Linked DNA regions of Homo sapiens: all the other regions are reported to be linked to region 1. Evidence: microRNA targets listed by miRTarBase, many of them from high-throughput screens and not tested one by one. Region 1 holds a microRNA gene; each other region holds the end of a gene's coding sequence. Distances are between the middles of the regions.
Evidence for each region. Region 1 holds the annotated microRNA hsa-miR-922 (GCAGCAGAGAAUAGGACUACGUC, at 1,933-1,955, opposite strand). A microRNA usually pairs through its seed, bases 2 to 8, with sites in the 3' UTR of a target mRNA and lowers its output. Matches are read on the target gene's strand: a 7mer-m8 pairs with bases 2 to 8, a 7mer-A1 pairs with bases 2 to 7 and ends in A, and an 8mer does both.

Region 2: the mRNA of CD180 is a reported target of hsa-miR-922. Seed matches in the 3' UTR shown: 7mer-m8 at 595-601 and 7mer-A1 at 2,741-2,747.
Region 3: miRTarBase lists RNFT2 as a target of hsa-miR-922. The part of its 3' UTR that is shown has no 7-base or 8-base seed match.
Region 4: the mRNA of MATCAP1 is a reported target of hsa-miR-922. Seed matches in the 3' UTR shown: 7mer-m8 at 1,207-1,213.
Region 5: miRTarBase lists DUSP2 as a target of hsa-miR-922. Seed matches in the 3' UTR shown: 7mer-m8 at 2,401-2,407.
Region 6: the mRNA of CCNY is a reported target of hsa-miR-922. Seed matches in the 3' UTR shown: 7mer-m8 at 770-776 and 7mer-m8 at 2,366-2,372.
Region 7: the mRNA of PHC3 is a reported target of hsa-miR-922. Seed matches in the 3' UTR shown: 8mer at 1,753-1,760.

The regions. Positions count from the first base shown.
Region 1 is chr3:197,672,566-197,675,659 of GRCh38, forward strand. MIR922 (microRNA 922) reads right to left here and starts at 2,011; the gene lies at 1,931-2,011. RUBCN (rubicon autophagy regulator) reads right to left here. Exons shown (of 20, transcript NM_014687.4): 19 at 2,857-2,950; 20 at 1-2,631. The coding sequence ends at 2,453.
Region 2 is chr5:67,180,289-67,183,382 of GRCh38, reverse strand. It overlaps CD180 (CD180 molecule), which reads left to right. Exons shown (of 3, transcript NM_005582.3): 3 at 1-3,094. The coding sequence ends at 526. Among named protein-coding and RNA genes, the nearest start is that of CD180, 15 kb to the left of the region's middle.
Region 3 is chr12:116,848,976-116,852,069 of GRCh38, reverse strand. RNFT2 (ring finger protein, transmembrane 2) reads right to left here. Exons shown (of 11, transcript NM_001382266.1): 11 at 1-2,756. The coding sequence ends at 2,622. Among named protein-coding and RNA genes, the nearest start is that of HRK, 31 kb to the left of the region's middle.
Region 4 is chr16:67,174,194-67,177,193 of GRCh38, reverse strand. MATCAP1 (microtubule associated tyrosine carboxypeptidase 1) reads left to right here. Exons shown (of 7, transcript NM_001040715.2): 7 at 219-1,595. The coding sequence ends at 383. NOL3 (nucleolar protein 3) reads right to left here. Exons shown (of 4, transcript NM_001276309.3): 2 at 2,730-3,000; 3 at 2,250-2,573; 4 at 1,457-2,147. The coding sequence ends at 2,140. Among named protein-coding and RNA genes, the nearest start is that of NOL3, 5.2 kb to the right of the region's middle. RefSeq lists silencers at 807-1,236, 2,610-2,869 and an enhancer at 2,767-3,000.
Region 5 is chr2:96,141,230-96,144,323 of GRCh38, forward strand. It overlaps DUSP2 (dual specificity phosphatase 2), which reads right to left. Exons shown (of 4, transcript NM_004418.4): 3 at 2,925-3,094; 4 at 1,940-2,808. The coding sequence ends at 2,594. Among named protein-coding and RNA genes, the nearest start is that of DUSP2, 2.7 kb to the right of the region's middle. RefSeq lists silencers at 151-200, 261-310 and an enhancer at 1,361-1,430.
Region 6 is chr10:35,568,829-35,571,922 of GRCh38, forward strand. It overlaps CCNY (cyclin Y), which reads left to right. Exons shown (of 10, transcript NM_145012.6): 10 at 226-3,094. The coding sequence ends at 342. Among named protein-coding and RNA genes, the nearest start is that of GJD4, 35 kb to the right of the region's middle.
Region 7 is chr3:170,094,479-170,097,572 of GRCh38, forward strand. It overlaps PHC3 (polyhomeotic homolog 3), which reads right to left. Exons shown (of 15, transcript NM_024947.4): 15 at 1-2,906. The coding sequence ends at 2,752. Among named protein-coding and RNA genes, the nearest start is that of GPR160, 58 kb to the left of the region's middle.

The DNA of each region.
Region 1 (3,094 bases):
GACTGTTGAGTTCGGCTTCAGAAGCTGTCAGCATTGTCATCCTTTGATCCTATGCTGATGTGAAACAGGCAGGACAAGACGGCACATCTGTCCTCCAGCGCAGTGACCTGGAGAAAGAGCTGGATGTGTCACCTTTTTGTTTTTTGAGACGGAGTCTCACTCTGTCACCCAGGCTGGAGTGCGGTGGCGCAATCTCGGCTCACTGCAACCTCTGCCTCCCAGGTTCAAGCGATTCTCCTGCCTCAGCCTCCCAAGTAGCTGGGATTACAGGCGTGTGCCACCACGCCCAGCTAATTTTTGTATTTTTGGAAGAGACAGGGTTTCACCACATTGGCCAGGCTGGTCTCAAACTCCTGACCTCATGATCCGCCCGCACTGGCCTCCCAAAGTGCTGGGATTACAGGTGTGAGCCACTGTGCCTGGCCTGGATGTGTAATTTAAACCAAAACTGGAAGTAGAGCTCATTTTTATAAACTCCTGGGTCTGAATCTGGGACCTAACCCCTAGTTAAACTTGAGTTCTGTGGGGTCATTCTTAAAGCTCCCTGAAGGACCTGGGCACTTCTAGTCACAGCCCTTCAGAACTTCTGGGACTTGGCTTTTTGAGTCTCACTATGAACAGAAGGGAGAACAGCCTCAGGGTCTTCTAGCCCTACATGGCTTTCAGATCCCAACTTTGAGGCAGAGGAATCAAGGGCAGGGGCCAGTTCCCACATGTTCCCTCTCACGCTGGTGGAGCCTCAGCCCTGGCCATCACCTTAATGCCTCTCCCACTTCCCTGGGAGACTCCTTCTTACCGCCAGCTCAAGCTCTCATCAGCTTCCACCAACCACAGGCAACTTTCCGCTCAGCTTCCAGGGCAGCACCCACGCCCATTTCTTTCCTACCAGCAAGCAACTATGAGAAGACATGCCCATGGGCAGAATTCAATCCCAGAACAAAAATGATGCAGGCTTTAGTTCACAGAGCTGCCAGCTCTTGGAGAAGCCACTCTGACCAGTGTTTTCACAGAGGTTAGAAGCTGCATCAACTTAAGGAACATCACAAACACACACATGGCCCCACCCAAGGACTTCACTGTCAACACACACATTAACGGGGGGGAAGGGGGAGGCAGCACACCAAAATCAGCATTATCAAAAGGACTTCACCATCAACACACATTAACGGGGGGAGGGGGGCAGCACACTAAAATCAGCATTATCAAATGAACAGATAAACATTACCAGGCTACACAGAGTTAAGTGCATAATTGGCATAAAGGCTCTTGTTATCCCAAGAACACAGGGACATTCACACTCACATCCACAAACCGTCAAGTTCTGTAACAGCACTAATAGCAGGAAGCTTTTCTCCAACTTTGACCAAAGAAGCTAAGGCAAGAGAGACTCGGCCACCAGGGAAGGACCCAGCTCTGCTGCAGGAAGGGGAGAGAACGGAGTCGGGTTGTACTTTTACTCAGAAGCACAACGACCATCTAACAGAGGACAGAGTCATCAGGGACACGCTAAGAAGATGGTGGGTGAGGTTCCTGTCCTCACCTTAGGATGGCATCAGGGACCTGCCTGAGCTTCAAAGATCACACCTGCACCAAAAAGCCAGGTTAACTAAGAGACCTTAACACCAAGAGGGGGCCGACCGCTCCTCTGAGTAAGCGCTCCTTCAGCGACAGAGCTGGCGCCTCACGTATGCTTGCGGCGTAAGGCTACAGGTGAGCCTGGCCTGAGCATCAGTTCTGTTCTTTGCTTCAAGATCACCAAGGTAGATGAAGAAAGTCAGCTTGTGGCATCCTCTATGCTTCAAATATTTCAAACAGGAACTCCCGGCAACATAGGGACATTCACAGCTGCCTCTGAGGTCTCTGAGGAGTCTAGGATAGTCAGGATTGTTCTGTGGCCCCCAAAATACCCAAATAAGTGGACGAAATGCCCATGACGTAGTCCTATTCTCTGCTGCTTCTCCTCGGGGCACAGTCTGACCCCAGTCCAGGACAGGGAGAGGGAAAACGCCATCCCCGTTTCAGCAGCAGGAGAGGTGGTTGAGAAAGGCCTGGCTCAGAAGCTCCAGAACTGAAACAAAGGAAAATTGGAAATGATACCTGACATGCAGGTGAAACCTAGAGGAGAAGGCCACAGACGCTGGAAGAACTTGGTCTTGCTGTCTCTTCCACTGACAGAGGCACTAGAAGCTTCACTGAAGGACCCGCATGTCAGTTCTGATGGAAACACCTGGTGTTTACAAATTATCTGTCACCACAGACTCTGGACCCATCAACCTGCCGACGGCTGACTGCACACAGACGTCAGACAAGTCAGTAAAAAAAAAAAAAAAGATGATGATAATTAAAAAAAAAAAAAAAAAAAGAAGCCCCAGGTGGGGCGAGTCCTTCAAAGAGTGGCTCAGTTCTGCAACAGGTGTGACCCGGCCCGGAGGGAGGGCTGCACGTGCTTTCTTCAGGTGGCCTCCAGGACGGCGGCTTCCAGGGCCAGCGCTTCCGCGGGCTCCTCCTCGTAGTCTGACAGGTAAGACTCCAGGCTCTGCCTGGCCAGTGCCTCCCGCCGGGCCTGCAGCCGCTCGCAGCGCGGACAGCTTCCAGACTTGAAGCAGGCTTTATGGTAACACGCTTTACACTCTACTCAGGTTGGGAAGGTGGGGGAGAGAAGAAAACAATTTGTATTATCTCCAGCTAGAGGTCAGTTGCTGCCACAGCCCCTTCTCGCCACCAAGGCGTGGTGTCCCCTGGGGAGGCCCCGCGAGGTGCTGAGTGGCACCGAACTCTTGCTAACAGGGGTGGCTCTGGGGAATCAAGGAGCCCTGTGTTCAGGCTCACTTGCCCGATGCCTGCACCTGCCCTCACCTTCACAGGTCCGGCACTTATGGAGCTCAAAGGGAAAGATGATGTCATCCTCATTCTGACAGAACTCACAGATGAAGCCTTTGGCTTGGCAGAGCTGGGGAGGAAAAACACAGATGGCAAAATGAGGAGCGGCACATCAGGAACTGGCACGGGAGGGTGAACACCGAGGAGGGGAGTGGTCTACAGGGTTCTGCTGCCCACAGGGAGGAGGCCTGGGCTGGACTCAGAAGCATGAAAG
Region 2 (3,094 bases), not on the chromosome of region 1:
GAAGACCAACCTACTTCAGACCGTGGGCAGCTTGGAGGTTCTGATTTTGTCCTCTTGTGGTCTCCTCTCTATAGACCAGCAAGCATTCCACAGCTTGGGAAAAATGAGCCATGTAGACTTAAGCCACAACAGCCTGACATGCGACAGCATTGATTCTCTTAGCCATCTTAAGGGAATCTACCTCAATCTGGCTGCCAACAGCATTAACATCATCTCACCCCGTCTCCTCCCTATCTTGTCCCAGCAGAGCACCATTAATTTAAGTCATAACCCCCTGGACTGCACTTGCTCGAATATTCATTTCTTAACATGGTACAAAGAAAACCTGCACAAACTTGAAGGCTCGGAGGAGACCACGTGTGCAAACCCGCCATCTCTAAGGGGAGTTAAGCTATCTGATGTCAAGCTTTCCTGTGGGATTACAGCCATAGGCATTTTCTTTCTCATAGTATTTCTATTATTGTTGGCTATTCTGCTATTTTTTGCAGTTAAATACCTTCTCAGGTGGAAATACCAACACATTTAGTGCTGAAGGTTTCCAGAGAAAGCAAATAAGTGTGCTTAGCAAAATTGCTCTAAGTGAAAGAACTGTCATCTGCTGGTGACCAGACCAGACTTTTCAGATTGCTTCCTGGAACTGGGCAGGGACTCACTGTGCTTTTCTGAGCTTCTTACTCCTGTGAGTCCCAGAGCTAAAGAACCTTCTAGGCAAGTACACCGAATGACTCAGTCCAGAGGGTCAGATGCTGCTGTGAGAGGCACAGAGCCCTTTCCGCATGTGGAAGAGTGGGAGGAAGCAGAGGGAGGGACTGGGCAGGGACTGCCGGCCCCGGAGTCTCCCACAGGGAGGCCATTCCCCTTCTACTCACCGACATCCCTCCCAGCACCACACACCCCGCCCCTGAAAGGAGATCATCAGCCCCCACAATTTGTCAGAGCTGAAGCCAGCCCACTACCCACCCCCACTACAGCATTGTGCTTGGGTCTGGGTTCTCAGTAATGTAGCCATTTGAGAAACTTACTTGGGGACAAAGTCTCAATCCTTATTTTAAATGAAAAAAGAAAAGAAAAGCATAATAAATTTAAAAGAAAAGGCTGAGAAATGAAACTTGGTATCAAATCGACTCCATTAATCTTCTTAATCCTTAGGTCTGTAAGGTCTCTGTAATGCCCCTAGGGTGTGAATGGCTATAAAAAATAGAACCCACCCCCAAGGTTTAGAATTTCTTCCACATTTGCCTCACTCAGTTCAGAAACCAGGCAGGCTCTCTCTGCCTATCTGGTGTTCTGGCTCTTATGTTACAGATCCTAACTTGCAGGTGGGCTGTGACCCAAAATGCTCTTCTCATTTGGGCATCCGGTTCTTAGAAGTCTCTTTTCCAGAAGAACTGTGAAATAAATCGTGGTTTGGTTCTCAGGCTTGCCCTTAAAAGCCTATTTGCTTCGGAGAGCATTTGAATTAGCACATTTACGTGAAAATGAGGAAGAAGGCATCCCTGCATGCTAGCTGTTGGGAACACAGTAAAGCTGGCTTAGTGAGAAGTGGTTTCTGTTGAGGCTGGGGATGTCACCAAAGGTCACACCAGCCATGGACAGGGGCCTGAACCACTGAATGCAGATAGACAAAGAGCAATGTCATGACTTAGGCTTAAAGGGCCATACTCACACAGGCCTGTATCTTCTGAAGTCTTGATTGCCAGACAAGCTTGGCGGGAGCTCCTGGACTCAAGTGGTGCATTGTTCTGTTCAATAACCAATTTTAGGGTAGAGATAGAGATGGTAACTTATAGTTATGAAATTCTGATAAGCTAACAAAATAAAAATGGATCCAACCAATCAGAATATATTAGTCCTTAAGTTGAAGGCATACTAGTGGGACATCATAACAGAGTGAAAACTTGGGGGTCATCCTTTTTGTCTCTTCGCCCCCAGGAAAAGCAGGGCAGGCAGGGAACAGCAGTGGGTGAACCTCTTCTCTGCTCAGGGATTTCAGGCCTTCACACTTGCTCTTTCCTTTGCCTCTAAGATGCTGCCATTGGCCTCCAAATGGCTCCTTCCTTCATCTTGAGATTTCAGTGCTAATATTTTCTCCTTTGAGGGATTTCTTCTCTGACCTAGCTAATCCAAAGCAACCTCTATGCCTCACCTGGTTTTATTATCTTTATAATGCTTATCAGTGTTTGGAATTAACTTCTTCATTTGTTTTAATTAGTTTCTCTTGTCTTGTCTCTCCCAAATACAAGTGCCATGAGAGGGTCTTTGCCTAAAGATACCCTAGAACATGCCTGGGACATAGTAAGGACTCTCTCTCTCTCTCTCCATATGTGTGTGTGTGTGTATGTGTGTGTATGTGTGTGTGTATATATATATATAATTTTTTTTTTGAGACTGATTCTTGCTCTGTCGCCCAGGCTGGAGTGCTATAGTGCAATCTTGGCTCACTGTAACCTCCGCCTCCCAGGTTCCAGCGATTCTCCTGCCTCAGCCTCCTGAGTAGCTGGGATTACAGGCGCCCACCACCACGCCTGGCTAATTTTTGTATTTTTAGTAGAGACAGGGTTTCACCATGTTGGCCAGGCTGGTCTTGAACTCCTGACCTCAAGTGATCTGCCCGCCTCGGCCTCCCAAAGTGCTGGGATTACAGATGAGAGCCATCGTGCCCGGCCAAGATTCAATATATTTTTAATATGTGCTGATCCCTGAGCCTTTATTAGCTCCTAGTTCTGCCACCATGCCTATGCTGCTGACTCTTAGCTCCTGACCTCTCCACGGTTTCCTGGGCCTCCCACATGTTTTTCACTGGCATCTCCTAGGGAAGTTTTTACAAAATGGATTCCCAGGCCTCACCCCCAGATACTGAGATTCTGTTGGACTGAGGTTGGCTCAGGGTTCCCAGCCAAATGATTCCATGTAAAATGTGGAAGGTCCAAACTCTAAGAATCCAGTCTTAGACAGCACCAACCCATTGAGTCCCTGCATATTCTGTCACAGGTAAGCTCTTTCTTGCCTTAGGGATTTAAGCTGCAGATGGAAAATACTAATTGCTGATTTACCAACCCATAGACATACTGCCCTCCATAATATTTAATATGTA
Region 3 (3,094 bases), not on the chromosome of region 1:
TTTCAGAGGTGGAGAAGTGGCTCTGTCATAGAGATCACAGAAGCACAGATGGTTACGGTGCTCCATGCCACTACCCTGGTTGGTGGAAACATCCATAACATAGGTTGTCCTGTTTGCTCTGAAGGCTACCAGAGGGGATGGCAATGTCCACAGGAGCTGCTGACAGGCCTGAGACTTAAGTGAGGGAGATGACAGAATAGGAAGAGGAGAAAGACATAAAGACAGGAGACCAAGGGGTAACCACATCTGGGCCAAAGCTGACCTTTCTTTCTTTCCTTCCTTCCTTCCTTCCTCCCTCCCTCCCTTCTTTCTTTCTTTTTTTTTTTAGACAGAGTCTCACTCACTCTGTCACCCAGGTTGGAGTGCTGTGGTGCAATCTCGGCTCACTGCAACTTTCACCTCCCGAGTTCAAGCAGTTCTCCCTGCCTTAGCCTCCTGAGTAGCTGGGATTACAGGCACCCGCCACCGCGCCCGGCTAATTTTTGTATTTTTTAGTAAAGAGGGGGTTTTGCCATGTTGGCCAGGCTAGTCTTGAACTCTTGACCTCAGGTGACCCGCCTGCTTCAGCCTCCCAAAATGCTGGCACTACAGGCATGGGCCACCACACCCGGCCTCTCGTGTGCTTTTAGAAGACCGTGTCTGCTGGGCCCCATGCCTGGAATGTCTGAGGGGCAGAGCAGTGCGGAGGTTAAGAGTGCGGGCTCTGCTGGGGATAGCGGAGTGTGCCTGTAGTTGCAGCTGCTTGGGAGGCTGAGGAGGGAGGATCACTTGAGCCCAGGAGTTTGAATCTAGCCTGGACAACCTGGATTTTTATTAGAAACCTCATCTCTAATAAATTTATTTTTTTTTAGATGTGGGTTCTGAAACTGTACCAGGCCTCTGTTGGAAACTTGGCCCGCCCATGCTGGCTGGGTGACCCTGGGAAAGTTACCGCACCAAGCTCTGTGCCCAAGTTTCCTCATCTATAAAACAGGGGACCCAACAGTACCTCCCCCATCACAGGGCTGTTGTGAGGATGACAGCACGTAATCCAAGCAGGATGCTGCATGCTTTGCCTGCTGCGCATGAAGTATTTGGGACCTTAAGTCATTACAGGTATATGGTGGGGCCCAACAACTGTATTTTGAAAATACTTTGGGCCAGGTGTGGTGGCTCATGCCTGTAATCCCAGCACTCTGGGAGGCTGAGGCAGGTGGATCACTTGAGGTCAGGAGTTTGAGGCCAGCCTGGCCAACGTGGTGAAACCCCATCTCTACTAAAAATACAAAAAAAAAATTAGCTGGGCATGGTGGCACGCATCTGTTGTCCCAACTACTCGGGAGGCTGAGGCAGGAGAATCACTTGAACCCGGGAGGCGGAGGTTGCAGTGAGCCAAGATCGTGCTATTGCACTCCAGCCTGGGCAACAGAGCAAGACTCTGTCTCACAACAACAAAAAAAAAAAAAAAAAGAAAAGAAAAGAAAAAATACTTCACAGGGCTCACAGGGATTCTAATCTGCAGGCCTGGGCTATCTGGGAGGCAGTGATCTCTAGGCTCCTCCCCAGCCTGCACCATCAAGTCCTAGGTACTAGGTACTAAGTTAAAATAACCAGCAGGTGGGCTGGGCACAGGGGCTCATACCTGTAATTCCAGCACTCAGCACTTTGCGAGGCCAGGACAGGAGGATTGCTTGAGCCCAGGAGTTTGAGAACACCCTGGACAACATAATAAGTCCTCGCCTCTACTAAAAATTAAAAAAAAAAAAAAATTAGCCAGGCCTGGTGGCACACACCTGTAGTCCCAGCTACTTGGGAGGCTGAGGCGGGAGGATGGCTTGGGCCCAGGAGTTCAAGGTTGCAGTGAGCTGTGATTGTGCCAACTGCACTCCAGCCTGGGTGAAGACCCAGACCCTGTCTCAAAAAAAAAAAAAAAAAAAAAAAAGTGAGCCTGGGCACGGTGGCTCATGCCTGTAATCCCAGCACTTCGTGAGGCTGAGGCGAGCTGATCATTTGAGGTCAAGAGTTGGAGACCAGCCTGGCCAACATGGCAAAACCCTGTCTCTACTAAAAAATACAAAAATTAGCCAAGTGTGTTGGTGGGTGCCTGTAATCCCAGCTACTCGGGAGGCTGAGGCAGGAGAATCGCTTGAACCCAGGAGGTGGAGGTTGCAGCGAGCCGAGATTGTGCCACTGCACTCCAGCCTGGGTGATAGAGCGAGACCTTGTTTTAAAAAAAAAAAAAAAAGGAAGGAAGGAAGGAAGGAGGGAGGGAGGGAAACAGAGAGAGAGAGAAAGAAAAGAAAAGAAAAAAGAAAGAGAAAATAACCAACAAGTGGGAACTTCATGTATTGCCAGGTCCTTGACTTGGAGTGGAGAAGGAAGATGCATCTAGAAGGGCATCAAGTCTGAGTTAGGAAGACGTCCCCTTTTGCAGGGGAAGGAGGCACGCACTATACCACAGAACGAGAGAGGAAGATGAAGGTCAGAAGGACAAGACAGGGGCGGGACTTTGGGGTCAGAGGTGGTGGAGGGCAAGAGGCAGGATGTAAGTGCTTGAGGCCTGTTTCTCAGGAAGCCCCCGCAGGGCTGGGTCCGGGCATGCTGACCCTTGGCGTCCTTCTGGGTGTCCTCAGTGTTCGGTCCTAGTACACCTGGAAGTGTGCGGACGTGGCGCCGTCCTTCCAGCAGCGCAGGGTGTCCACGGCGACCGAGCGGCAGAGCGGGCAGGTGCGCTCACGGTCCAGCCACAGGCAGAGGCACTCCTCACAGAACACGTGCTGCGGGGACAGCAATCAGCAGGCACCAGGACTCTTTACTGAGCGTCTGCCTCGGTCTCGGGAGCAGGAGAAGGGGCAGCGGACTAGACAGACAACCCCTGCCTTCGGGGCGCCTGCACTCGCGTTGGGGAGACAATGCGACTCCAAAATACTGAGTTATCAGTAGGAAGCACCAAGATGAAACAGCAGGGGAGGGGACAGGTGTGGTGGCTCAGGACTGTAATCCCAGCACTTTGGGAGGCCGAGATGGGCGGATCACCTGAGGCAGGAGTTTGAGACCACCCTGGCCAACATGGTGAAAACCAGTCTCTACTAAAAAATACAAAAATTAGCCGGGC
Region 4 (3,000 bases), not on the chromosome of region 1:
GGTTGTAGGGCATCTATGACAAAAAGAAACTGTTGAGAGAAAGGGCAAAGATGAAGGATTGAGTCTAGAGGTATAAAACGTTGTAGCTAATTGTGGATCAGGAGGGGAGAGGAAGAAGTCCCGGAGCAAAGGCTGTGAGCTGTAAGCAGTGGGCTGGGACCAGCTACCTGAAAGCCAGGGGCCACTGCCTATGCCTGATGCCCGGCTTCCTCCTGCAGGTGTCCTATGAGGATGTGGACCACCTGCGGCCCCATGGGGTGCTGGATAATACCCGGGTGCCCCACTTCATGCAGGACTTGGCACGCTACCGGCAGCAGCTGGAGCACATCATGGCCACCAACCGGCTGGATGAGGCGGAGCTGGGTCGCCTGCTACCCGACTGATGTCCGTTGAGGGCTGCAGTCAGAGGCCCTGGACAGAAGCTCCAGATAGGCCCCTAGAACATGAAGCAGTTTGCTCTGTGCGTCCACGGCCTAGGTGTTTCTTGGGGGTGTTGGGAGGGCAGGAGCATTCCTTGAGGAGGAGTGGCAACATCAAAGTGTTTGTGTCCCTTGCCAGCCTCCCTGGGGTCTGGGGACCTGCAGCAGCATGTCTGGCAAACTGAGTCGCCCTCCTGCCTCCAGCTCTCTGTTGAGCAGAGGGAAGGCATGGGGGCAGGAAGAGAGCTGAGCATTGATGGGGATGGGGGTGGTTTGGGAATAGAAACTTGTTCTTGCATGAGATGGCTTTGGTTGTCCCAGTACTCCAGTCTCTCCCTTCCCTTACCTGGCCCCTTGGTGCTCCTTCAGCATTTGTGCTGTCTACCTCTCACTGGGTCCTGGTGGGGGTCGGGCTCCCTTCTCCTGGGGTGATTGATGGCCTGAGCCTGGGGTCCTGGTAGTAGAGACCCAGCTGGCCTGGGGTCTGCTTTCCGACATTTTGCCTCTCTCACTGGTCATGTATTTATTCCATATTTATATGGTCTACTTCCTGTGGCTGGGAGCAGCAGCTCCTGAAGGTTCCGTGGGGGTGCGGGGGGTTGGACAGGACACTCCTTCTTGGAAGGCACCAATTTTCCCAGCCCCACTCCCATTACACACACACACACACACACACACACACACACACACACACACACACACACACACACACACACACACTGATTCAGGCCTTGAGAGTCAAGCCCAAGAGCTCCCTTGGCCCTGTTCCCCACTCCCTCCACTGGCCTCTGCTGTTCCTGTCTTTGCTCACACCCTCACAGCTGCTCTCTGGCAGAGGTTGGCATAGCCTAGGAGCAGCTGCAATTGCACCTGAGGGACAGGCCCTAGAGTTTGGTGGCCCAAGTCCTGAACCCCTCTTAGACCAGGTGAGGTGCAGAGGTGGTTGCTGCTTCCAGTTTCCCTTCAGACTTAGCTGTGTGAACCCCACTCCTATCCTTTGGCCTTAGTTTTCCCATCTGTAAAACTCAGAAACGCAGTTGGAAAGTCCTTATTCATTTAGTAAGCGAATATATTATAATATGTATAGAGCGCCTTTTGTGTAAGTCACTGGTCAGAATCCTCACTGAGCTCCCAGTCCAGAGAGAAGCCAGACAATTAAAACAGTAATGACAATGATGTGTGTGGCCTTTGTCTACTCAAGGTCCCTTTCTGCTCCCCTCTTCTAGTCTCACTTCCCAAGGCTGTGAGCTCTAAGCCCTCCCTATGTGGAGAGAAGTCACCCTCCCCTTGCTCCATGTTCAGCTCAGGAACTTGCGTGGGGTTGAGCTGGTACCTACATATGCTGCCAAGTGGCTCACCAGGGGAAATGGGTTGTGTATGCGGGCAGGAGGGTCAGGTCCTTGTCCCACTAGGGGGCTAGGTTTGGGATCTCCAGGGTGCAGCCTGGACTCCTAAGGGCAGATTAGGGCTGAGGACTGGATGATGCTCGTGGTGGGCTTGGGCCTGCCCAGGTCCCTGGGACTCAGAGGTACCCACCCTAAGTTCCTGGGCAAACAGCCAGAATCGTGGAGAGAGCCCAGGTCCCGTCCGACCCTCCGGAGTTTATTCACTTCCAGCGGTACTGGGCTGGACCGAGCCTTGGTGGCATCCGATTCAGCTCCAGCAGCATCCCAGGTCCTATCCAGCATGGGCGGGGCACCGCCTGTCAGAGCTCTGGCCTTCAGGAATCTAGAGATGACGGGAACAGTGGTCAAAGAGGTGGGGTCCGGCATCCGCTTCCCAGGCCATGCCCTCCCGCCAAGCCGGCTCAGGGTTTGGGCGGACTCACACCTTCGGACTCGTCCCTTTCCTCGAAGTCGGGCTCGGGCTCTGGGTCCGGTTCTGGCTCCAGTTCCGGCTCTGGTTCTGCTTCAGCCTCGGGTTCCAGCTCTGGCTCTGGCTCCGGCTCCGGTTCAGCCTCTTTAGAGGCCTCAGCTTCCAGCTCTGGCTCTGGCTCCTCCGGGGTCCCGGATTGCACCGCCTCGGAGCCCTCAGGGCCCCCGGCCTCGTCAGGGTCTGAAGCTCTGGGCAACCCGGGGCATGTGGTCCCCGAGCCGGGTGCCTCCGGCGTCCAGTGGCCTGGGCATGGAGGGTCATAGCTGCGGTCCCGGTAGCCTGGGGCGGAAGTGGGAGTGACTGAGGCTCAATTTACCCCTGTGCGGTTTCACACTCGCCTACTTCTAGCGGAGACGACAACCCTGCCCTCCCCGGGCCTTTTGTCTGCCCCAGCCCCGTCCCTGCTCTGCCCTAGGCCCCGCCCCGCGCGCTCACCCGGACCCACGTGCTGCCAGTCCCAAGCGGGGTCCGGCGCGCCCGCGGTACGCTGGGCACAGCGTAGCAGCTCCTGGCAGGCGGCCTCGCCCTTGCCCTGCACCAGCAGCAGTAGGCGGCGCACCCTGCGCTCGGCATCAGGCAGTGCATCCAATGCCTCGTACTCTGGCCCGGTGAGCACGCCCCGCGCCAGCAGCGCGTCCAACAGCAGTCCCGAGTCCGCCTGCAGCGTCTCGACCAGGCGTTTCCGCTCGCGGTCGATAGTCTCTGA
Region 5 (3,094 bases), not on the chromosome of region 1:
CCTGGTCCAGATGCACACCTCGCATGTGCACACCGGCACATCAGATCAACCTCACTCCTAGGGCCGTAGTTAGCTAACATTTTCGGAGCGCCTACTATGAGCAGGCACTACATGGATTGACTTGTGTAAGTCTACATCCTCAGAGGTGGGGGCTAACAATGAAACTCCATTTTACAGACAAGAAAACTGTATACAGCAAGGTGAAGCAAAACCAGCCCCCGGACTGTCAAACTACACTGCCCTGCCCCACAAGCACACCCTCCCAGGCATTCAGAATGCCGTAAGACAGCAGTTCCCAACCTTTGTGGCACCAGGGACCGGTTTTTGTTTGTTCCTCTGTTTGAGATGGAGTTTCACTCTTGATGCTCAGGCTGGAGTGCAATGGCGCAATCTTGGCTCACTGCAACCTCCACCTCCCAGGTTCAAGCAATTCTCCTGCCTCAGACTCCCAAGTAGCTGGGATAACAGGCGCCCGCCACCATGCCTGGCTAATTTTTGTATTTTTAGTAGAGGCGGGGTTTCACCATGTTGGCCAGGCTGGTCCCGAACTCCTGACCTCAGTTGATCCACCCATCTCGGCCTCCCAAAGTGCTAGGATTAGAGGCATAAGCCACCATGCCTGGCCCAGGATGGTGAGGGGGATGGTTTCTAGGTGATTCAAGTGCATTACATTTATTGTGCACTTTATTTCTATCATTACATTGTAATCTACAATGAAATAATTTTATACAACTCACCATAATGTAGAATCAGTGGGAGCCCAGAGCTTGTTTTCCTGAGACTAGACGGTCCCATCTGGGAGTGATGGGAGACAGTGACAGATCATCAGGCATTAGTTAGAGTTTCATAAGGAGCATACATCCTATATCCCTCCAATGCAGTTCACAACAGGGTTCAAGCTCCTATGAGAATCTAATGCCACCGCTGATCTGATAGGAGGCGGAGCTCAGGCAGTAATGCTAGCAATGGGGTGCGGCTGTAATACTGATGAAGCTGCTCACCTCCGGCTGTGCAGCCCAGTTCCTAACAGACCACGGACAGATCCTTAGAGGTAGCACTGTGCAGAGACAACCCTTGGCTGGATGACACTCCAAATGGCCGAGTGTCCCAGTGAGCCTGAAGCAGGACTGGCTCCCGCACAACCATTTCCAAAGGCCTCAGCACCCCTGCTCACAGGCAGATCACAGCACCCCCTCCCGGCAGCGTCGGCAGGTACCCCTTGGCTTCTGGCGTGGGCGGGGCCCTGGTCTCAGGTCTCCACTGAACCTTAGTCCTATGCTGGGCCCGTAATTGAAGCTCGGCCAAGATGTGCTAGTTGGGTGGGTGTGCAGAGCAATGAATCCCATCCCTGGTGACAGGTCCTCTGCACCAGACACAGGGCCACATGCCTTTGGGGGACATGAAGGAGCTCTGGAACAGGGGACGCTGTGAGCCCCAGCCCTGGGATGTGGGAGAAGAGTAGGGAGGCCATGCAGGCCTGCTGTGAGGAAGTAGAGACCCACACGGCCTGGGAAGTGCCTCTTGTGTGGGCGTGCACACACGCTCCCACAGGAACACCATGCGCAACATGCAGGTGTGCATGGGCCAAGACCACCCACCCCCACAGGACCACACCCTCAGGCACACACTCGCATCCTTCCACATTCCGAAAAGGAAGCGGGGTCTGATCGGGGCAGCACTGGGCCTGGCTCTGAGTCACGGACGGGACCCAGCCTCCCAGAAACAACCCTGTTCAGCTCTGGAGCGAGGTCCCTGTCTGGGAAAAGACGCCAGCCCAGGGAGAACTGGGGCCAAGAGAGCAGCCTTTGTGGGGAGGGTCAGACCTGCCCCTTCCGGCCGCTGGCCCCTCTGCCCATTCACTTCCCAAACCCCAAGGGCACAAGGAAACGTGAGGTCCAAGCAGGCTCCCGGGTATCAGATGAGACCAGATGCTGGGTTGTTGTTTTTTAAATATAACAATATTTTATTGACATATCCTGAATGTTCTGTATAAATATAAAGTGCTAAGTTTCCAACCCCTGCCCACAGGGCTAGGAGGAAGCGGGGGAGGGAGTGTTAAATGTCAGCTGAGCACAAATAATTTTCCAGCGCCAGCACAGGTGTGAAAGGCTCACAGACAGACACACGCAACATGACACACCCATCACTTCCCAAGTCCCCAGCTTCCCCAGGAACACAGGGCTTGGGCTCCAGGCCCTGGGCAGACGAACCCACAGACAGGGCTCCTGGTTGTCACAGCTTGTTCCTTGGAGCTCTCAGGCTGCCAAGGGCTTCAACATGGTGGTGGACCAGGGAGAGTCCACGGTATAGCGTCTAGCTGATTTCTGCCAGAGGATGGGGAGGGAAAGAGCAGACACACCCTTGGTTCCCGACCCCGAATGAGGGCCAGCCTCAGTCCCCCAGCAGAAGAGCACCAGGTCGGAAAGACCAGCATGCCGGCATTCCTAGAGCCCCCATGTGGGGGCTTCTGAAACTCTGAGGAGGTAGCAGCCCTGCCAGAGGTGAGGGGACTGTGCTGGCCCAGAGGGGAGCCCACCAGTCCACAGTCAGCTCCTGCCAGCACAGTGGGGCAGGCAGGCAGAGGGGCACCACCTCAGTGACACAGCACCTGGGTCTCAAACTGCAGCAGCTGCCCCATGAAACTGAAGTTGGGGGAGATGACCCCCCGGCGCTGCTTAACGAAGTCAAAGGCCTCGTCCAGCCGCACACGGCGACTCTGCATGAGGTATGCCAGACAGATGGTGGCAGAGCGCGAGATACCCGCCTGGCAGTGCACCAGCACCCGGCCTCCGCTGTTCTTCACCCAGTCTGCAAGGGAGATGGGGGAGTGGTGTCAGACGGAATGTGCACAGCCCAGGAGACAGGTGCCCCCAGTCCTCTCCTCTGGAGCCCCTCGGGATTTCTGGGCAGAGGTGCCCCCTTACCAATGAAGCCTATGGCCTCCTGGAACCAGGCACTGATCTCCACCATCTGGTTGTCCTCCACAGGGATACTCTTGTAGCGGAAAAGGCCCTCAAAGTGGTTGGGGCAGCTGGCGGACACGTTGAGGACGGCTGTGATGCCACAGGCCTGCAGCCCCTGCAGGTCTGACGAG
Region 6 (3,094 bases), not on the chromosome of region 1:
TCCTGAGAGTCTTTTCTCAGACTGTAAGCTCTTGGGAAACAAGAGCTGAGTCCACACTCCCTTCGTATCTCCCTGCTGCCAGCAGAGAGCTGGGCTCTGGGCCGGAGCTCCACAGGGGCAGGGGCTCTGCCTGTCCCTCATGCAGCGCCCTCGGCGCCCAGGACGAGTGAGCAATGGACGCAGATATGGCCCGCCCTGACCCACACTGTCTTTCTTGCCCCTCAGGCCATCTCTCGCCTCTGCGAGGACAAGTACAAGGACCTAAGAAGATCCGCGAGGAAGCGCTCAGCCAGTGCAGACAACCTGACTCTGCCCCGGTGGTCCCCAGCCATCATCTCTTAACTACGGAGGCCCGCCGGAGGCCACACCATCCCTTAGTTTCTCCTTTAGTTTGAGAAAAGACAGACTTGGGGTGGGTTTGTTTTTGTTTTTTCTTTCCTTTTCTTTTTTTACGCATAGCTCCGTCAAGCTGCCTGGATGAGCGCCCATGCAGCAAGGCTTGGAGGAAGCGTCAGTGCCCTGGAGATCCCAGCTCGCTCTCCCCACTGTCAGCAACAGCACTTCCTTCGTGGAGGAAGTGGACTCGAATCCTGGAGGAGGAAATAAAGGGAAAGGGAAGTCGTGGAGAGGCAGGGAAAATGGTTAAGCAGCCCGGCCCTCTGGAGTCCCCATGGGGGCGGTAGCTGAAGTTGGCGAGCGCAGCGGTGGATGCAGAGCTGGCTGCACCCAGGGCTGGGCCAGTGTGTCCTGTAAGACTTCTTGCATTCCTTCTGCTGCTTTTTTGGGATGGGGGTATTTTTGTTCATTTGTTTTTGCCCTGTTTTGATTTTGGTCCCACAGAGCAGGGGATGTAGTTTGTACCCACCATGGCGCAGACTTCCAAATAAATAGTACTGGTCATTTCTCTCTGCACTATTTCTGCGCGCTGTCTTCTGAGCTTTCTTCCTCACCAGTGGGCTGTGCTTGTTCCATTTCTGTACACCCTTATTTTATACCGTTTTTCTTCAACAATGGCGAAATTGACTGTAGTGCTGAACCAAAAGTATCCCTTTCCCTCCTTATTCCTCACCCCAAGAACATTCTAGATCACATGGGTGCTTGTGCCTTCCGATTTTCTTGCATTTGTTTTTTTCCTGACCTGAAGTTGTTGTTACAAAATCAGTCAGACTTTGTGGGCTGAAGGACACGGTGCAGCAGAGGGTGTCCCTGTGAGAGTTCTGCAGAGTGCTGGGCATGTGCCTGGAACTACCGAGTAGGAGCCATTTCTTTGTACCCCTGCCTAATCCATTCCTCTCCTTCCAAGTCCATTGTTGCAAGCAATATTCTTCTCAATTTTTATATGTTTACTTTAAATCAAAGTTAGTCTATTTGTATAAAATTTTTAAAAAATCTAAAAGAAAAAGAAAAAAAACAAGGGTGGGTTGGGTATTCCAGTGGGAAGATCATTGAAGGGAAAAATGTTACTATTTACTGAGGTATTTTTCACAGAATGATTGAATTAAAAAAAACTCAACTTGCATTTTCATTGTGGGTGCTTAGAGAAGTTCTACAAAATTCAAACTGTGAAGGTTTATGCTTCATTAATTATGACCATACTTTTTCATTTTCTGACGATCCCTGATTTCCTTATGGACTCAATAAGAATCTTTTATATCAAGTAAAATGAAAGTTGATGATAGAATATCAAATAGTGAATTTGATATGAAATCTAAGAGTGTGAGTCACTTGCATATGTAATGCTTTGGGTTTTTGCATATTTTCTTAGGTCACAGTGACAGGTTTCTGAGTTGTTTCCCTTTTCAAGTCTCTGGGAGGCCAGTGGCAGCAGCAGGTCTGTGTTTCACCTTCTTCCCATGTGAGCTTGGAAAACTTTGGCATCTTAATTAGTCTTGAATCATACACCTGATCCCCAAACATTGCCTGCTCTCAATGAAACATGCTTTGGAAATGGAAGGGACTCAGAAAGTCGAAATCCCAAGAACTCCAAGCCAAAAGTGTTAGGTTTTAGTGAAATTTGTGTCAGGTATAAGCATACCTGTTTGGGCCAGAATTATTATCACAGCCTTTCTGACCCAAACTTTCAAAAGCAAATAAACAGCATATAAAACGTTAATTATCTTTCCATTGTAATTGTGATGATCTACTCTGTATGGGTACCAAAATCACCTTCTCTCTTCAAGTCAAAGTTGAATTTAGAACTTTGAATACAGGTCAAAAAATGTAGAAAATATCATTTTATATTCCCTAATCTATATAGCTGAAAAAGGGTTGTATTTTCTTAGCTGAATATGAATACCTCTTAAACATAAATTAGTTCCTCTCCAGTGAAGTATCTTATTTTACCAATCCATTTCAGGAAAGAGGTTCTGCTGCCGTAAAGGCAGAAATTTTATTTTTATCCCTTTTATTTGAATGAGAGATTTGAAAATCGAATTATGTAAATATTTCAATGCATCTGCTATTATTTTGTGGAGTTTATTAAACTACTTTAAAAAAATTGTATAGTCTATTTATTGTATGTATGTACATACAGTCTGATACCTAAAATTTAAAGTGGATTCCATAAAACCAGACTCAAGTCTTGTTTAGACTACTGAATACTGTTTTAGCCTGTGCCCTGGATTCTACCTCTGTATAGGAAAATTTTCCATATTCATTAATTAGTGTTGATCTGTATTAATTGGTTATGTTTCTTGCACTAAGGATGTTTAAAACTCCGCTGTAAGTGTAGATTTTAGTTTTACTGGCAGGATGAATCACTTGACACATAGGTAGATACTTGAGGTTCATTTTCTTTTCTTTTTCTACATGATGATGAATAGTTATGTTTTCTTCTCTGATTTGTTCAAAGTTTGCCAAAAGAAAACACAAAACCAGTACAGTACTTACTGATAAATCGTAGTGACTGTAATTTGTTTGTAAGGCGAATTAATGCTCTACAATTAAAGCTGGATTACTATTGAGGAACACATTGTCTTAGTGTAGTTTTTGAATGGAAAGTTTTTGTCATTAAGGATGAAGGAAACGACACAATTTGTTACTTTAATTTTATATTTGATTTAAACAACAAATAAAGTCATTGGGACAATAAATA
Region 7 (3,094 bases), 28 Mb from region 1:
AAATCCTAAAACTATTAGTAGTAGTATGAAAGGATATGAAAACAATTTACTCTCCCCACCTATATCATACTGAAACTCTGCTTTAAAGCTCAGGAGAGAGGTGGATGCTCAGTGTTGTCTATATATCCATTATATATAGCTGAAGCTTTGAAATTAAGATGATTAACTCATCTTGAAAGAAACAGCTGCACCAATGTGATAGCAAACAAGCCATTTTTAAATAAAAACTCACTTGAAAAAAGCAAGTGCATATTTTGTGTATGTTTTGAGTGGGGACAACAGAGATCTGGACTAGATTTAAGATTATACGGTATTCTCCAATAGAAAACCCTCTTGTAAGCCCCTCCTGAATACTTAAGACAGCAGTAGGCACAGGGGCTTTCAATAAGTACAGAATGGCTGCTATTAGGAAAGAGAACAAATAAAAGGAGAGCCTACAACACAGTTCAAAATTGATACCTTAAAGGCCATAGGTAATACAGTTATAGGATGTAATCATTATTGCTGGAGCAGTCTATCCCCATATAATAAATTTTGTATTAACCGTGGATAATCTATGAAAAGTTTTAATTCCAGGCGAGATTTTCCGTTGCACCTCTCTCTCTCATACTGTGGGCCATCTCTTACTAATGCTTAGCCTGTATTTGTGTTCTGAAATTCCAAGAAGAGGGAAAAGTCAAGCATATGACAATTCTGTCATGATGATTAACTGCTAATAAATGAAAACTCATTATAGAGTACCTAGCTTTCCTTGATACTTTAATCCAATGATTAAAAATGTGATATAAAGAAATACGTAACATAGACTACAAGCTATCGTAGGTCTGGAACATGAGCCTTATATTATATTACATATTCTAATCCTACATGTAACTATCAGTAAACATCTTTTTTTAAAACATTACTACACAAAGAATTCCACAAAGCATACATTCAAACAAGAGGCATCTAAAGATTAAAAAAATTACCCGCTGTATTTTTGTATAAAAATAATCAACATTCTCTAATGTACACAAAGCCAAAAGATAAATATAGTATCTGTGATGTCTTCAGTGACATCTTTAGTCTTCTACCAGCTCAACACAATCTTTTTGAAAAGAGCAGTGAAAATGACTGAAACTCACGGACTCTTTTTTTCCCCTCCTTACTCGACTTCTGCCAAATATCTGTGTATGTTCCTTCAATTACTAAAATATCTCAATTGTGGTAATATAAGAAAAGATGAAAACAAAACATTCATCATCTCAAATAAAATTTTTGATGTCCAGGACTATAAAGCTTTCAGGGCTTCCACAAACAATTTTGTTTTAGTGTCATAATTCTATAGAACACTGTTCAGTAAAAGGTTTTGCTTTACATTTTTTTCCTCAAACATGTACATACAAAATTATATCCGATGGTTCAAGAGAAATCACTTGGTAAGTGCTTTGCAGGAAGCATGCAAACGTTTGGTAAAGGAAGTAGGAATGTGCATTCTAGCTAGTCCCAGCATGTTCAACAATAGAAAAAAATCCAAAGAGCAACCACGTATCTGCTACAAACTATTTTCTTGCCAGAAAAGGCTGTGCACTAGTTCATAGGTATAATCATATTATGTCTTCGTCAGTGCAGAGGAGCACAGAGGTATGAAAGATAATCAGAATGAATTAGTACTTTCTGAGAGTTAAATTATTTGCATGTTTGTCCTTATTTTATAGGACAATTTGTAGATTTTTTTTCTTTTTCTAGTATGATTAAACTAGAAAAAATTATTCAGCAGAATATTAATGTTATCTGAATAATACTTCCATCATATATGTTTAGTAAGCTTCATCCTTTAAAAGTATTCCTTTGGGTGAAAACAATATTTATCACTCCTTCTATATCAGAGTTTCTCAACCTTGGCAGTACCGATATTTTTGAACCAATAATTCTTTACAGTGGAGGGGTGCTGTCCTGTGCATTATAAGATGTTTAGAAACATCTCTGGCTTCTAACTACTAGACACCAGTAGCAACCCTCCCCTGAACCCACCCCCAAGCTGTGACAACCAAAATGTCTCAACATTGCCAGATGTCCCCTGGCGATCAAAACTGACCTCCACTGAGAACCACTGCTCTAAATAAATGTACAAAAACTGAGAGGAAAACGTTCTCAGTCAAACCAAATTCTTGGTCAAGTTTGGAATAGAAACTAACTCTTCTCACTTCCAGATCAGTATTGTTCATACTAGAACACAATTCCTTTTTTATAGATAAAGCATATGTCTAAAAGACATGTTTTTTAAAATGTACACTGATTTCATACGATTCTGTCACTGGACTACTAAATTATTCCATAATATACCTCTCATGACAACCTTTAGAAAACTAATAGGGTAGAAAAAATGTATAAGAAAATTGAATCAAAAGAGGAGAAATGTAAATCATTAAATTACTTTTAAAAGGATTCTTTATATTAATGATAAACATCACCTTTAAAAAAATTATCTAGTATAACACATTTCTTTGAAAAATATCATGGCCCTCTGTAACAAGTCTTTCAATGTTTCATGTAACCTGTAAAATTAATTTTACCAATGTTTATTAATTATGAAAATGCATGATGAATTATTATACCTGTAGAAGAAATGTCAGTATTTGATGTGGAGATCCCAATGTGCTTGGCTATCCACCACAATAAGTGTCATATTCTAGACCAAGTTAGGCCTTTACCTTACAAGTTTTTGTGAGAAAAGTAAAACTGCTGTTTTATCAAGGCTTCATGTTCCTGTTAAGATTCCTTCAGAGAGTTGATGCGTGCACAGATCTTCAGGGCTGGGCCTAGCTTGATATTCATTGCACTCATGAGATGGTCTTCTTTCAGCAAGAGAAGGGCCTGTCCATCAATCTCCTGTGCTCTGAATTCATCTGCGATATCCTGGCAGCCTGGAATTTGACCAGAGGACAGAAGTTAGAATTAAATATACAACAATTAGACATTACTCCTAACAGTCACAGTTATGCTCTCACTGGGTCTGAGAATCTGAAATACAGGCTGAGAAACAAATGAAATTTATTTATGGTAGTCTTGAGTTCACTCTTGAAGAATAGAGTATTTGCATTCTGAAAATAAG